Homo sapiens: one gene and its partner. The protein of the gene in region 2 interacts with the protein of the main gene of each other region in a pairwise test. Each region holds a gene or a part of one and is shown on either strand. Other genes may lie near its edges. The genes, in order: MVD and BTAF1.

Region 1 (8,547 bases), on a different chromosome or scaffold from region 2:
AGGGCAGGAGGAGGGAGAGGAGCAGAAAAGATAACTATTGGGTACTGGGCTTAGTACCTGAGTGATGAAATAATCTTTACAACAAACTCCCGTGACATGTGTTTATTTATGTAACAAACCTTCACATGTACCCCCAAACCTAAAATAAAAGTTAAAAAAAAGTATCAAATTGTTAACTCCTCTGGAATAAACATTTCCTTGTCTTTTTTTAATTTAAATTATTATTTTTAAAATGCCCATATTCCCTGAGTCCTCGCTTCTTTTTACCTCTCCAATCGCCTGGCTTCATGGTGTTTCACATTTGCTGACTGCTTCCAGAAAAACATTCCCACTGAAGGCCTCCCAATGCAAGGCAGATATAGAGCAAGCTAGACACATGCCTTCCTTTCCAGTTGCTTTCTGACTTTTTAAAGTCCCAGATGCCTGGGCTTGGGGAAAGGACAGGAAGCGCCAGGACGCAGGAAGCCCCGGGGATCAGCAGTAGGATGCTGTGCAGGCTGTGCTCGGGGCCCCTCTGCTGGCCTGTCCAGGCCAAACCCCCAGGGCTGCAGGCCTGGAACCAGGCAGGACATGCTCAGCCCTGGCTGGGCTTCCCCTCCTTGCCCCAACACCAGTCAGGGCCCACCCACGGGCTCCAGCTGTCTGGCTTCCCATTCATCTCCCAGACCCTCTCCCCTCATGAATCAGTGCCACACACAGCCTACCCATACCATACTCAGCAAAGCACCCATGCCTGTGGCTCAGGTGCGGTGGTGTGATCAGAGCTCACTGAAGCTTTGAACTCCTGGGCTCAAGCGATCATCCTGCTTTAGCCTCTCTAGTAGCTGGGAGTACAGGTGTGCACCACTACGGCCAGCTAATTTTGAAAAAATTTTTTTGTAGGCTGGATGCGGTGGCTCATGTCTGTAATCCCAGCACTTTGGGAGGCCTAGGCGGGTGGATCACGAGGTCAGGAGATCGAGACCATGACCATCCTGGCTAACATGGTGAAACCCCGTCTCTACTAAAAATACAAAAAAATTAGCTGGGTGTGGTGGTACACACCTGGAGTCCCAACTACTTGGGAGGCTGAGGCAGGAGAATCACTTGAGCCTGGGAGGCGGAGGTTGCAGTGAGCCTGGGAGGCGGACGTTGCAGTGAGCCTGGGAGGCGGAGGTTGCAGTGAGCCGAGATTGCACCACTGCACTCCAGCCTGGGCAATGGAACAAGACTGTGTCTTAAAAAAAAAAAAAAAAAAAATTTTTTTTTTGTGGATATGGTGGAGTCTCGCTATGTTGCCCAGACTGGTCTTGAACTCCAGGCCTCAAGCAGTCCTCCCAAATCCCAAAGTGCTGCTGGGCTTACAGGCATGGACCACCATGCTTGGCCTATTTTCGACACACATACAGGCTGAGGTTCAGGAGAGCTGGGCTACAGGCGTCAGGGTGGGGATCGATGTGTGACATCTTTCAGGGAGGTAGTTTATCCTAGTTCTCCACTCAATAAGGGAGTCTGCCCACAAGCACACTGTCGGCACCCATTGCTACATGGCTCAACTGTGAGTATAACTTAGATAATTGTAATAATGAAAATAAGGAATGCTGATGGAGGGATAGGATAAGAAGGTATGTGACTGGGAGATGGAAGAGAATTCCTTATTTCTATTGAGTCATAATCAATAGAGGTTATCTAAAACTTAAAAAAATAGGGCCAGGCACAGTGGCTCACGCCTGCAATCGCAGCACTTTGGGAGGCTGAGGCGGGCGGATCACAAGGTCAGGAGATCGAGACCATCCTGGCTAACACAGTGAAACCCCGTCTCTACTAAAAATAACAAAAAAAAGTAGCCGGTCGTGGTGGTGGGCGCCTGTAGTCCCAGCTACTTGGGAGGCTGAGGCAGGAGAATGGCGTGAACGTGGGAGGCGGAGGTTGCAGTGAGCCGAGATCACGCCACTGCACTCCAGCCTGGGTGACAGACCGAGACTCTGTCTCAAAAAAAAAAAAAAAAATAATAATAATAAAAACGCCAGGCATGGTGGCTCACGCCTGTAATCCCAGTGCTTTGGGAGGCCGAGGCAGGCGTATCACTTGAGGCAAGGAGTCTGAGACCAGCCTGGCCAAACATGGCGAAACCCCGTCTCTACTAAAAATACAAAAATTTGCCGGGCCTGCTGGTGCACGCTTGTAATCCCAGCTACTTGGGAGGCTGAGGCATGAGAATCACTTGAAACCAGGAGGCAGAAGTTGCAGTGAGCTATGATTGCCCCCCTGCACTCCAGCCTGGGTGACACAGCGAGACTCTGTCTAAAAAAAAAAAAAAGAGCAGCCTGGGCAACACAGTAAGACCTCCATCTCTACAAAATAAAAAATAAAAATTAGTCAGGAGTGGTGGCACTTATCACAGCTACTTGGGAGGCTGAAGTGGGAGGATCACCTGAGCCCAGGAGGTTGAGGCTGCTGTGAGCTGATGGTGCCATCGCACTCCAGCCTGGACAACAGAGTGAGACCCTGTCTCTAAACAAAAATAAATTGTTTTTTTTTCTACTGGACTTAAACAATCTGCCCTCCTTGGCCTCCCAAAGCACCAAGCCTGTGTCTTCTTTTTCATCACAGCCGTGGCAGAAGGAAGGAGGTGACTGGAAGCCCCACTCTCTCTGAGTAGCTGAGGGAATACACCCTGACTATAGGCCGAGACAGTCCACATCAGCTCTTCAATAGGATTTAGTGGCTTTGCATAAAATGGAAAAGCAGCTGTGATTGCAAGAGAAATTAAAAATAACCACCATCTGAAATGCAAATTGAAAACAGTGAGACAACACATGTCACTCTGGCAGGTGACCCACTGTGCTGGTGAAGGCATGCAGGCACTCTCAGACTTCCGCAGAGAGACCTGAGTAATCAATTGACTTCCACAAAGGGCGACTTGCCAACAGCTATCAAAAGTACTCAGGCACATCCCACTTGGCCCAGCAATTCCACTTCCAGGAATTTCTCCTGCAGAAATACATGTGCACAAACAACGTAGGAAAGCACTGTTTATAGTAACAACCCAACTAGGACAGACCAGGTATATTTAGACAACAAACAAGGAAGCTTTTTACTAAATTGGGATGATCTCTAAGAAGAAGGTACGTAGAAAAAGCAAGGTGGGAGAACACGCTATGTGCTTGTACTATGCACGTCAATGAAAAAATACACAAAGAATTGACAGGCCAGGTGGAGTGGCTCACACCTAATCCCAGTACTTTGGAAGACTGAGATGGGAGGGTTCCCTGAGGCCAGGACTTCAAATCAGCCTGGGCAACATAGCAAGACCCCCCCACATCTCTACAAAAAAATTAAGAAAAAAATTAGCCGGGCATGGTGGTGTGTACCTGTAGTCCCAACTACTGAGGAAACTGAGGTGGGAAGATCCCTTGAGCCAGGAGGTCGAGGCTGCATGGAGCTTTGATCGTACCACTGCCCTCCAGCCTGAGCAACAGAGTGAGAAAAAAAACAGACTTTTTTTCTATTTCTGGAAAAAAATAAAGAATTTATAAGTATGATGGTTCTGGTAATAGAAGTAGGTGGCTAGGCAGAGTGGACACTTCACACTGCATACTCCCCTATTTTCCGAAATCTGAGTTTTTTTTTTTTTTTTTTTTTTTTTTGAGATGGAGTCTTGCTCTGTCACCCTGGCTGGAGTACAGCAGCACCATCTCGGCTCACTGCAACTTCCGCCTCCTGAGTTCAAGCAATTGTCCTGCCTCAGCCTCCCCAGTAGCTGGGATTACAGGCGTGCACCACACGCCCACCTAATTATTGTATTTTTAGTAGAGACAGGGTTTCACCATGTTGGCCAGGCTGGTCTCAAACTCCTGACCTCGTGATCCGCCCACCTCGGCCTCCCAAAGTGCTGGGATTACAGGTGTGAGCCACCATGCCCAGCCAATCTGAGCTATTTAAAAACTAAAGGTAAAATTTTAAAAGGGGAAGGGGAAAATGGGAAGTCATTGTTTTAAGGGGACAGAGTTTCTGTTTGGGGTGAGAAAACTCTAGAAATAGTGGGGGCGTGGCACATGATTGGAATGAATGGCAGGGAACGGCACGCTTAAATGTTCCTGTACGTTTCACAGGAGAAGTCAATGCACACACAAGCGCCGCAACCCAGTCCAAGGCTTTGCTCCTACAGGGCCTTACAGGGGGTATTTGAGACGCCCACCTTAATGCAGGTTGGACCCAGCTCCGGGCTGCGGGGCTTCCCCGCCCCGGGGTCTTTCGTGTGAGCCCCGTGGCGGGGGATCCTGGCCCAGGACATGGCGCGGAGAAGGCTGTGGGCGGCGGGACAGGGTGCCTTCGGCTGCCGGGTTAAGAGTGGATCCCGGGATACATCCTCCAGCGCCTGCCCTCGGGCCTGTGTGCACCCCCATACCCAGCGGGGCCGTCCAAGAGCTTCAAGGAGGGCACAGCGCGACCCGCCCTCCCCTCAGCCCCGCACACCGTCCCACGGCCCCGCACAGCCTCCCTCCCACACAGCGCCCCACGGCACCCGCACAGCGCCCCACGGCCCCTTCATGGTCCCCGCACAGCGCCTCACAACCCGCACACAGCGCCTCACGGACCCTTTACGGCCCCCGCAGAGTCTCCCACACGGCGCCCCACACAGAGCCTCACGGACCCCGCACAGCGCCTCAAGGTCTCCGCACAGCCCCCAGCACAGCGCCTCACACAGCCCTTCGCACAGCCCCCCGCACAGCTCCTCACGGGCCCCACACAGCTGCCGCACAGCCCCGCACAAGCCCGCACAGCACCAGCAGACAGGTAGCCCCCACAGGCAACAGCGCCCACCTCGCCGCGCCCAGACCCCGGATCGCCGACGCGGACGCCAGGCGCCTGGGCACACGGCGCCTGCGCAGACAACACCACGCCCCAGGCCTGGCGAGCGCACCCTGCGGGTGGGGCGGACCTACGTCAGCAACCCATCGTCCGATCCCGTCCATTGGCTGAGAGGTAATGCGTGCGCCCGACTCGCCGCTGATTGGTCGGCGCGCGAGCAGCCGGGCTCGCACGGGCCAATCCTGTGGTAGCGCGTGAGGAGGCAGAGGCCTCTGGGGTGGGATCGCGGGCCGTAAGTGGCTGTGGAGCTGGGGTCACTGCGCGGTGGGACCATGGCCTCGGAGAAGCCGCTGGCGGCAGTCACTTGTACAGCGCCGGTCAACATCGCGGTCATCAAGTACTGTGAGTGCCGCGGGCCGGCCTGGGACGGGGATGGCCGGGAGCGAGGCCGGGTACGCGGGGGTCGCGCGCTGATTCGGCGGCGCGCTCCGTCCTGCCCTCCCAGGGCCTCGACAGACGGGGAAACTGAGGCTCAGGGAGGGGCGCGGCGGTGGTCGGGCGGGGCCGCGCGCTCCTTCGCGTGACAAGCTCGGCGCCACCCGTTCCCCCGCGACGGCTGCCGCCCCTGCAGGGTCGCCCGGCGCCTGCCCATTAGCGATTACCGAACTATCGAAATCATCAATCATCGATTCCCATGAATCGTAAGAATCCGCCGTGGTGGTGCGCGTTTGTGGCTCCAGCTACTCGGGAGGCTGAGGCGGGAGGATGGCCAGAGCCCGGGAGGTCGAGGCTGCAGTGAGCGGAAATCGCGCCACTGCTCCCCCAGCCCGAGACCCTGTGTCCCTCCCTCGCCCCGTTTCTCCCAGCGGTAACCTCCAAGGAGCGGTAATGGGGGGCCCGCAGGCCCACATCCGTGCCGGGGAGGCCGGTCCGCACCTGTGCGTTCACAGCCCCGCCCCTCCCCTCGCGCCGGGGTTACCTGGCCGCCACTGACCACTCATTTCTGTAACGTCATTTCAAAATGTTCTGAAACTGGAATCGCAGTTATGTGGCCCACCCAGTATCTTTTGAGTTTGGCTTATTTCATTCAGCATAGAATGTGGACGTGCCCCGGGATTGTATCAGTGCTTTGCCCCTCTGTTGCTGAGCCAGTCCGTGGAATCCATGGACCACCCTCTCTCTAGCCAAGGCCTCACCCCGCAAAGAGCATCTAACGTTTTCTTTCTTTCTTTCTTTTCTTTCCAGAAGCCGCCACCACGACTGGCTAATTTTTTTGTGTTTCCCTTACCAATAAAGCTGCCATAAAATGTTGTATACAGGTTTTTGTGTGAACATACATTTCCATTCTTCTGGGATAAATGCCCAGGAGTGCGGTTGCTGGGTCAGATGGTAGATATATATATATGCCTCTCTGTCTCTCTCTCTCTTTCTATGTATATATGTATGTTTGTGTGTGTGTATATATATATACACCTGTATAGATATATGTGTGTGTATATGTATACACCTATATAGATGTATGTGTGTGTATATATACATATATATATTATATATATACTTTTTTTTTTTAAAGAAACTGTCTAATTGTTTTTCAGAGTGGCTGGGCCATTTTGCATCCCTACGGTGATGCAGATTTTCCGCATCCTCACCAGCATTTGGTGGAGTTGCTGTTTTTCATTTTAGCCGCGTCCTGGTAGGGATGTGCTGGCAGGGTGCTGTGGTCCTCATTCGCGTTTCCCTGTTGGCCAGTGACGTGGAGCATCTTTCTTTGTGCTTATTTGCCATCTGTGGGTTTTCTTGGTGAAATCTCTCTTCATATTCTGTGTCCACGCTCGAACTGGATGGTTTGCTTTTTTACTATAAGTTTGGAGAGTTCATTACACATTCTAGGCTGGGCACGCTGGCTCAAGCCTGTAATCCCAGCACTTGGGGAGGCTGAGGTGGGCGGATCACCTGAGGTCAGGAGTTTGAGACCAGCTTGGCCAACATGGTGAAACCCCCGTCTCTACTGAAAAAAAATAAAATATGTATTCTAGATATTAGTCTCCTGTTGGACATGTGGTTTGCAGGTATTGTCTCCCAAACTAGCTAATCTTTTTGTCCTCTTAACAAAGAGCCAGTTTTTCATTTTAAAGAAGTTCAGTGTATCAATGTTGATGTCAAGTCTAAGACCTCTTTGCTTAGCCCTATGTCCTGAAGATTGTCTGCTTTCCTCCAAGTTGTACAGGATTGCCTTTTATATTTAAGTCTGTGATCCAAGGTTGTCCAGTTAGCCCAGAAAGGCTATCCTTCCTCTATTGAATTGCTTTTGCACTTTTGTAAAAAAAAAAATCAGCTGGGCATGTTTGTGTGGGTCTATTTCTGGATTTTCTCTTCTGCTATTTTTTTTTTTTTTTTTTTTTTTTTTGAGACAGAGTCTTGCTCTGTCACCCAGGCTGGAGTGCAGTGGCACAATCTTGGCTCACTGTAACCTCCGCCTCCTGGGTTCAAGCAATTCTCCTGCCTTAGTCTTCTGAGTATTTGGGACTACATGCACGTGCCACCACACTTGGCTAATTTTTGTATTTTTAGTAGAGATGGGGTTTCACCGTGTTAGCCAGGCTGGTCTGAAGCTCCTGACCTCGTGATCTGCCCACCTCAGCCTCCCAAAGTGCTGGGATTACAGGTGTGAGCCACCGCGTCTGGCCTTTTATTTTTATTTTTTATATTTATTTATTTTATATTTATATTTTTATATTTATTTGTATTACTTTTATATTTATTTTTTTGAGACAGACTGTCACTGCGACACCCAGGCTGGAGTGCAATGGCGTGATCTCGGCTCACTGCAACCTCCGCTTCCCGGGTTCAACCGATTCTCCTGCCTCAGCCTCTCGAGTAGCTGGGACTACAGGTGTGCGCCACCACACCTGGCTAATTTTTGTACTTTTAGTGGAGACGGGGTTTTGCCATATTGGCCAGGCTGGTCTTAAACTCCTGACCTCAAGTGATCTGCCTGCTTCGGCCTCCCAAAGTGCTGGGATCGTAGGTGTGAGCCACTGAGGCTCACCAACAGTGATATTTATGGAAACGTGTCCATTTTCTTGTAACGTTCAGAGACTCTGGTCTTCTTTAAACCTTACGTTTGAGCTGGTTTTTGATAGCGCGCTGGTGGAGGAGGGGGTGCTGGCTCAAGATAAGGAGGCAGAAGTCCAGGTTCCCCTCCCCACCAACGCTGTCCCATCCCCACCAGGCCCTCAGGAATTCCTGAGTGTCTGCTTGGCCTCTGACAAGAGCCGGCAGGTCAGGGGAGTCCAGTCTCCCGTGTGCTCTCCAATGACTCCTGGGGAGGTGAAAGTCCCCACTCCTTCAGGGAGGGAAAGGGGGCGGGGCACTGTTCCAGCCTGGAGTGTGGGAGGGATCTGTTTCTTTTTTTCTTTTCTTTTTTTTTTTTTTTGAGAAAGGGTCTCCCTCTGTTGCCAGGCTGGAGTAAGGCTGGAGTGCAGTGGTGCCATCTCGGCTCAGTGCAACCTCCGCCTCCCAGGTTCAAGCGATTTTCCCGCCTCAGCCTCCTGAGTAGCTGGGATAACAGGCGTGCGTCACTACAGCCTGGCTAATTTTTGTATTTTTAGTAGAGATGGGGTTTCACCATATTGGTCAGGTTGGTCTCAAACTCCCGACCTCAGGTGATCTGCCCACCTCGACCTCCCAAAGTGCTGGGATTACAGGCGTGAGCCACCGCGCCCGGCCAGGAGTCTGTTTCTGTGTTGCTAG
Region 2 (8,419 bases):
CAGCTACTCGGGAGGCTGAGGCAGGAGAATCGTTTGAACCCGGGAGGTGGAGGTTATGGTGAGTCAAGAACGCACCATTGCACTCCAGCGTGGGCAACAAGAGCAAAACTCTGTCTCAAAAAAAAAAAAAATCAAACAAAAAAACACACTAAGGTCAGAACTAGCCATACCTGAGATGGGGCTAAGAAGTGTTCCAAAGATAAACAGTAGGGGGTAACAAAATGAATTCTGGGGAGGGTGGAGGATAGAAGAGAGAAGAAGGTGAAGGGGAAGTACAGAGAAGTTGACACAAGATGAATCTAAAAAGATGACACAGGAACCAGATCACAAAGGACTTGGTAAGATATGTTTGTTTGAGAATGTGGACTTTATCCTAAGGCAATAGGAAACAACTAAAGGTATTAATTAGAAAGATTACCATGTTCATGTTCAAATCTTCAAATCAGTAAATAATATGACTGAAGCGAAGAACAGATTGAAATGAGATGCCATGGAAGGCAGGAAAAGGAGAGAGGCTCCTGTCTTGTACTAAACATGTCCAAATACCAAATACATTGATACATAAACTTACTATGAGACTTATCAGGTGATACAATGTTCAAGGAGATGAGTACTTCCTTTCCTAGGGTTGAGTGTGTATTTTCAAAAGATTGGATGTAGCTTTACAGTGACAAAAGGGAAGCGTCTCTCTAAAGGTGTCTTGGACTAGAGATGGTGGCATGTTCTAGGATTGTGGTAACTGGTATAGAAAGAAAAATGATCAGCTGGAGAAAGATTAGAAAGGCAGAATATACAGGATTGGATTTGGTAACTGGCTGGACATGGGGTGTGGGAGGAAAAGGGAAGTCAAAGAACATTCTCAAATTTCTTGACCAGACAATTGAGGGAATAATGGTACTAACTTACTATTTCCCATCTGTTGGAAATTCTGGTGGAAATGTCCTAAAAATATTACAGTTTCTCTTCAGTTATGCATATGAAATAAACAGTGCAAAAAATATTTTAGATTTGATTTTAGCATATGATTTTTATCTCCTGGGCTATTTTCCACCTATTTTACGTAAAATAGTATTAAAATGAGTCTGCACCAACAGGAGAGAAAGGAAGTTTAGTTAGCACAGAACTGTGCTTCGTGCATGGAGAAGGCCAGCTTGAAACTAAAATTTGCCATTCAAAGAAATCCACAGGTGAAAAAGTCAAGAATTGACACTATCCCCAAAACACACAAGTGTCTCAAAATGTTTTCCTTGGGCTTACTACTGAGCCCAAGGAAACTAAGCACAGAAATAGCTCTTCCATAAAAACATGACAGGCTTTTAAAAAAGTGAACGAGAAAAAAATCCACAGAAAAAGAGTGCTACTCTTTGAAACACAACATCCAGAACAAAAGACAGTACCTTCAAAACCCACTCAGTCATTGAGAAATATTAACTGTCCTAAAATTCCGTAAAGAGATTAGTGTTGGCTGGGCGCGGTGGCTCACGCCTGTAATCCCAGCACTTTGGGAGGCCAAGGCCGGCGGATCACGAGGTAAGGAGATCGAGACCATCCTGGCTAACACGGTGAAACCCGTCTCTACTAAAAATACAAAAAACTAGCCAGGTGTGGTGGCGGGTGCCTGTGGTCCCAGCTACTTGGGAGGCTGAGGCAGGAGGATGGCCTGAACCCGGGATGCGGAGCTTGCAGTGAGCCGAGATCTCGCCACTGCACTCCAGCCTGGGCTACAGAGCCAGATTCCTTCTCAAAAAAAAAAAAAGAGATTAGCGTTGCCCGAAAATTAGGTTCTTTTTAAACACTTTCATTTTGTCTTTATAAAGCTACATCCAATCCTGTGAAAATGCACAGGTTGCTCTAAGAAAAGAAGTACTCATCTCCTTAAACACTATTACCTGATAAATGTTATATTAAGTTTACATATCAATGCATTTACAATGTATATATTCATGCATTTATATGGGAGGTAACAAATTAGAAGATACACCTTTCTATATTTGCAAAAATGTAAAATGTCACTTGTATTCTCTCAAGGCAGTTTTATTTAAAAAAAAATTTCCTCACATTGAATAGATTATAAAATAAAAATCAGATGCCCCATACTACGGTACCTAGCAACCCCCTTCACCCAACTCCCATGGGCTTCTCCCACACACTATTTCATCAGTCATCTAGGGAGTCTGTAAGGAATGGGTTATCCTTTCCCTTGCAAAACAGATAAAACTTGTGCACTTAATACGCTCAAAGAATGTGTTCAGTTAATTATAAAAAAATGAAAACTATTTGTTTTCATCATTTATTCCTTCAGTCTATATGGTAAAAGAATCCAATTCTCATTAAAAGTTACCATATCAACTCTAAGGAACTTGGTGAATCCATCCGATCACTATCACAGAGGAACTATCCCTTAATTACATGTACAGAGGGTCACCAAATTCCGCTTACAAAAGCTTTCCAACCATTCTATCATACCGGAGGAAAAAGTAATGTTTCTCCTATAGCTATACAAATAAATGTCGTTAGTTTTTCTATAGTTTTCCTGGGCTTTCCTGTTGACAGGCAATATTTCAAAAGAATATAAGATCTGTGATTTATCTTCCACGCCTTAGTTACGGAAAATGATGCTAATACGATAATTGGCTTAAGGTTACAACGCTGACGTTGGAATGTTTACTGCCAAACAAAAGGAGAAATTATACTTAATTTTAAAAAACATCTCAGGAAAGAACATACCCCTAAAAACGTAAATTAAAACTGGTAACATAATTAGACGGTCTCTTAGATAATAGTAATTCAGGTTTCCCCTCCATCGACAGTAACTACCAAGTTTTCCCATGAAATGGAGGTTAGGGACCAGCCTTAGAATACTGAGAAAGATAAGAGACTCCCCTAGAATCGAAAGAGGGAAGAGAAACCAGAGAACAGAAACATGGTGAGGAAAGAGAAAAAACAGCTCTAACGTGCCAAGGGGTCTATTAACAAGAAAAAGGCATTATTGAACCGATTTACCCAGGAGTAACCCGAGCCCAAACCCCCGCCGACCACGGGGCGAACTCCGAAGTCTACTGAAGAAAGCTCCAGAGCCCAGTGACAATGAGAACCGCTCTTCTCTAGGAGTGGGGGCTCTAAGAGGAGACCATGCCTTCCCTGAATCGCCTTCCAGTTTGCTCGTCAGGAGCAAGACCCACCTGGAGACCGCCATGGCCGGGCGCCGGCGGTTCGGAGCTCCCCGCGACCTACGCGCCGCGCAGCTGAGGCGCTAGTTTCCAGAGAGCTGAGCGGCGCAGGCCCAGGCCGCGGAGCACAGGGGAGCGGCCGGTGCGGCGTGGGGCGTTCCAGCGCAGGCCCTCGGGCATCTGCCCTGCCGCCTACCCGAGCTCGTCCCCGCGGCGGCCGGTAAGCAGGGGTCCAAGACGGTAGCGGAGGCGGCAGTCCTCCGACCCGCACGACTTCAAACCGGGTACCCTCAGCTCCGCTCTTTGCTGACGCGGGCGTCGGCACGCACAACTGAGCGTCAGCGCGCCGGAAGTGACGTAAGCTCACCGACAGGAGCTTAGCTCGGCGCGAGCGCCTTTGGTTTGGCGGCACGCGCCTAAATAAAAGCGCTTTGTGCTGATGTGGAGAGGGTGTCTAGTCTTAAAACTAGGGAAGGAGGTGAAGTAAGGGTCCCCTTATTTGACAGAGAAGGAAAAAGGCGATTTAGTCCAAGTCCTGGAACTTCGAAAGCTTGGTTTCTAATTCCACACTACCCAGATTCTGCTTCCCACCGTACTGCATCTAGGAAGCAAGATCAGAAGGACCTTAACATGCTCTTGTCCAGGTGGTGAAGCCAGTGGGAGGAGTGAAAGCAAAAAGTCGCTATGACACTGAAGAAATGGCTCAGATGTTTGTCATTATTTGCCAGAAGTTCTGCCTAGGTATTGGAGAGAAGGTCTTCTGACCAACGATTTTGCCAAGTTTGATTTCTCAATTGTTTATGTTGTTTGTACCATCATTTTCTCAGCCAGCCAGATTTGAAAACTACCATTTTTAAATTTTTGTTCCTTTGGGGGACTTATCTGGCTTTTCAATATTTTTAAGTTCATTAGGCTTTTAAACACTTCTGCCAGGCCCTTATCATCTTACACTTGATTTTTTTTTTTTGACCGAGTTTCGCTCTGTCGCCCAGGCTGGAGTGCAGTGGCGCGATCTCGGCTCACTGCCAACCTGCGCTTACCGGGTTCAAGCGATTCTAAATGTGCCTCAACCTCCCGAGTAGCTGGGAGGCACACGAGCCCCACGCCGGGCCAATTTTTTGTATTTTTTAGTAGAGACGGGGTTTCGCCATGTAGGCCAGGCTTGTCTCCTGCTCCTGGCCTCAAGTGATCTGCCCGCCTCGGCCTCCCAAAGTGCTGGGATTACAGGTGTGAGCCACTGCGCCCGGCCCTTAAACTTGATTTTTATGCTAGTAGTCAAAATAATATTTCTCCAATTTTCAGTTCAGCCCATTTTATAGGCCAACAGATTAATCTTCAAAAAACCTCACTGCTTTTTATCATGTCGCTCCTATGCTTATAAAGCATGTCCATTGGCTTCTCATTACCTGAAGAGGCTATGTCTCAATCCTTGAGTCTGTTTTTCATCTGTAAAATGAGGCTAATGAGAAGTACTGCAGAAGATTGTGGGAATAAAATGAGGTCATGAATCTAGAAGAGCTTACAAGAACTTTGTAAACCATAAAGTAGTATATATGTATGTAAAGAGAAAGAAACTAACAAGTACCTGCTGTGTGCTGGGCACATGACATGCATTATCCATATAATTTGTAGGGAAGCCTTGAAAAGTTAGTTTTAATCTTCGTAGACAAGGAAACTAAGCTCAGAAAGGTTAAGTAATTTGCCTCAAGATTCAAGCTAGTAATAATATTTATTGTCCAGTCATTCAACAAATGTTTGTCACCTCTCTGTATCAGAAACTCTGCTTGGCGGTGTTCATGCTATTAAAATCTAATCAAGTTGATGTTCAAGATATCTTTACATTTTCACTTTAGTCACCTACTTGCCTCATCAGTTTATCTCCCACCATTCAATAACAAGCAGATACTTTTTACTGATCGTGTACAGCAATCATTTAGCCAAAATTAAGCACCTACCATATGAGAGACTGGAACTTCTGAAGAAACCAGAACAGACAAGGTGCCTACTCTGGTTGAATTTACATTAAAAGGAAAGGAAAAAGAAAATAGATAAACATTGAAAATATATTTATGTGCTATGTAAAGAGAATGATGGAATTAATGGTATGATTAAAGACCTACTCTTACTGGGTAAATCAGGGAAAAACAGGATTAGCTTAAGCTGAGCCCTAAATGACAAGAGGTAGCTAAATGTGTGACAATCTGGGAGCCTTCCAGGAAGAGGGTATACGTAGTGCAAAGGCGTAAGAGAAGTCTGCTCTGTTGGGAAATGAGATGGGAGAAGTAGAAAGGGATCATCGTAAGGAATTTGGACTTTGCTCCATATGAAGTAGAAAGTCATAGAGTTTTAAGCAAGTGAGTAAAATGATCTTAGTTATATTTTTTAAATCTTTTTATTATCAGATAATTGGGTATATAGTCTAAATGGCATTAGAAGAGAGGAAAGGACTGGTGGTGTAGATTTGTAAAGGATAGTGTAATAATCAAATATATTGATATTGGACCGGCTTGTTTTTAAATCCTTTCTCACCACACTGAATCGCAGTGTCTCCAGGGGGAATTTTAGAACCTCTCTAAGCTTCATCTGGGAAATGAGGATAATAATAGTACTCATAGGGTTGCGGTGATGATTAAATTAATGCACATAAAACATTTAACCAAGTGACTGCCACGAGAAGCCCTCAAAAATATTATTAACTACATTGCTTACTGTTTTTGTTAACAATGGAAACTTGAGTAAGTGGCAATTTCTAGTCTCAATTTATTCAGCTGTGAAACGGGGATAATAATAGTACCAGTTCACCACCGTTATCTATACCAGTTCATCACCCCTGCCAGATGGTTTTCTGAGTTAAGAATTATTTAGGTTTTGAAAAGAAATCCAATGAATATACCTTGTATTATGCAGCATCCCAACAGCTTGTAGGGCAGTACTCTATAATCAAATATATTTATAGAGCTGCAGCAAAATGTATGACTAACCATACTAAGAGGAATAAGTAAAAGACTATAGATAGGCATATGCCAGTTCAGGCCAGGATTTGCTGCCAAATATATATATTTTGAGATGGCATTTTGCTGTTTCCAAGGCTGGTCTTGAACTCCTGGGCTCAAGCAGTCCTCCCATCTCAGCCTCATGAGTAGCTGGGACTATAGGTGAGTTTTTAAAAGTGTGGTTTTCAGACCATTTTCAATTTCAGAATTGTAAATAATAGATCATGAACCTGTACTTATAGAATTGTCATAAGGAAGAAATGAGTTCATACATGACACACTTAGAAAATACTAAGTATTAGCCAGGTGTGATAGTTCATGCCTGTCATCCCAGCACGTTGAGAGGCTGATGTGGGAGGATCGCTTGAGCCCAGGAATTCGAGACCAACCTGGGCAACATAGGGAGACCTCATGTCTACAAAAAAAATTTTTTTTAATTAGGCTGGGTGCGGTGGCTCATGCCTGTAATCCCAGCACTTTGGGAGGCCAAGGCAGGCAGATCATGAGGTCAGGAGATGGAGACCATCCTGGCTAACACAGTGAAACCCAGTCTCTATGAAAAATACAAAAAATTAACCGGGCATGGTGGCGGGCACCTGTAGTCCCAGCTACGCGGGAGGCTGAGGCAGGAGAATGGCATGAACCTGGGAGGCAGAGCTTGCAGTGAGCCAAGATCACGCCACTGCACTCCAGCCTGGGTGATGGAGCAAGATTCCGTCTCAAAAAAAAAAAAAAAAAAAAAGCCAGCTGTTGGTGGCATGTGCCTATAATCTTGGCTACTCAGGAGGCTAAGGTGGGAGGATCCCTTGAGCCCAGGAACTTGAGGCAACAGTAAGCCATGATCATGCTACTCTACTCTAGCCTGGGTGACAGAAGGAGACCCTGTTTCAATGAAAAGAAAAGACTAAGTATTAAATAAATATTAACTATTATGATTAACTATTTTAGTTATTATTATTTATAATAACTAAATGTACACCATTAAGTGAACAAATATTCACATTATAGGAGTTAAGGAAGGAGAAGTGATAACGAAAAAGCTTATTTAGTGAAATTATTGCTAAAAAAACCTTTCAAGTCTTGGGACAGATATAGAGGGGCAGATTCATAAAACTGAAAGATCCCCCAATAAATACAGCCCAAAGACATCCTCACCAAGGCACATAATAATCAAACTGTCAAAATTTAAAGAAAAATAAAGAATTTTAAAAGCAGCAAGAGAAAAGTGTCAAGTCACATATACGGGAATCTCCATTAGACTACCAATAGATTTCTCAGGAGAAACCTTATAGGCCAGGAAAGAATAAGATTATATATTCAAAGTGCTGAAAGGAATGAAGAAATGAAGAAGAAATAAAGTTTTTCCCAAACAAGCAAAAGCTGAAGAAACTCATCACTACTAGGTCTGCCCTACAAGAAATGCCTAATGGAAGTTTCTTTCTTTCCTTTTTTTTTTCCTTCGAAGTCTTGCTCTTGTCCCCCAGGCTGGAGTGCAATGGCACAATCTTGGCTCACTGCAACCTCCGCCTCCTGGGTTCAAGCAATTCTCCTGCCTCAGCCTCCCGAGTAGCTGGGATTACAGGCAACTGCCACCACACCTGGCTAATTTTTGCATTTTTAGTAGAGACGGGGTTTCACCATGTTGCCCAGGCTGGTCTCAAACTCCTGACTCCAGGTGATCCACCTGCCTCGGCCTCCCAAAGTGCTAGGCTTTCTTGCTTTCTTCCTTTCTTCCTTCCCTTCCTTCCTTCCTTCCTTCCTTCCATCCTTCCTTCCTTCTTTTCTTTCTTTCTTTTTTTGACAGGGTCTTGCTTTGTTGCTGGAATTCAGTGGCACAATCATGATTCACTGCCACTTTGAATTCCTCCCAAGTAGATGGAACTATAGGCATGTACCACTGTGCCCAGCTAATATTTATTTATGTATTTATTTACTATAGAGATGGAGTCTTGCCATCTTGCTTAGGCTGGTCTCAAACTCCTGGACTCCAGTGATCCTCCTGTCTTGGCCTCCCAAAGTGTTGAGATTATAGGTATGAGCCACCATGCACAGCCATGGAGTTCTAGTATAAACAAAATGATGATAATAATTATTATGAATACAAATGAAAATATAAAACTCACTAGTAGAGATAAATATATAGATAAACCTAGAATACTCCAGTACTGTACTGGTGATATGTAAAGCATACATATCTCTAGTATAAAGGTCAAATGTCAAAATGGTCAAAAAAATAACAAAAGCTACAATAAGTTG

The links.
Region 1: the proteins of BTAF1 (region 2) and MVD interact in a two-hybrid assay, tested with the Homo sapiens proteins (one study listed by BioGRID).

The regions. Positions count from the first base shown.
Region 1 is NC_000016.10:88,659,660-88,668,206, reverse strand, and holds the start of MVD (diphosphomevalonate decarboxylase), read left to right. Parts: upstream 1-5,115; 5' UTR 5,116-5,126; coding exon 5,127-5,196; intron 5,197-5,425; exon of another isoform or gene 5,426-5,488; coding exon of another isoform or gene 5,489-5,495; intron 5,496-7,569; exon of another isoform or gene 7,570-7,687; intron 7,688-8,547. UniProt on the Homo sapiens protein: Catalyzes the ATP dependent decarboxylation of (R)-5-diphosphomevalonate to form isopentenyl diphosphate (IPP).
Region 2 is NC_000010.11:91,918,854-91,927,272, reverse strand, and holds the start of BTAF1 (TATA-binding protein-associated factor 172), read right to left. Parts: upstream 3,504-8,419; 5' UTR 3,197-3,503; coding exon 3,183-3,196; intron 1-3,182. UniProt on the Homo sapiens protein: Regulates transcription in association with TATA binding protein (TBP). Removes TBP from the TATA box in an ATP-dependent manner.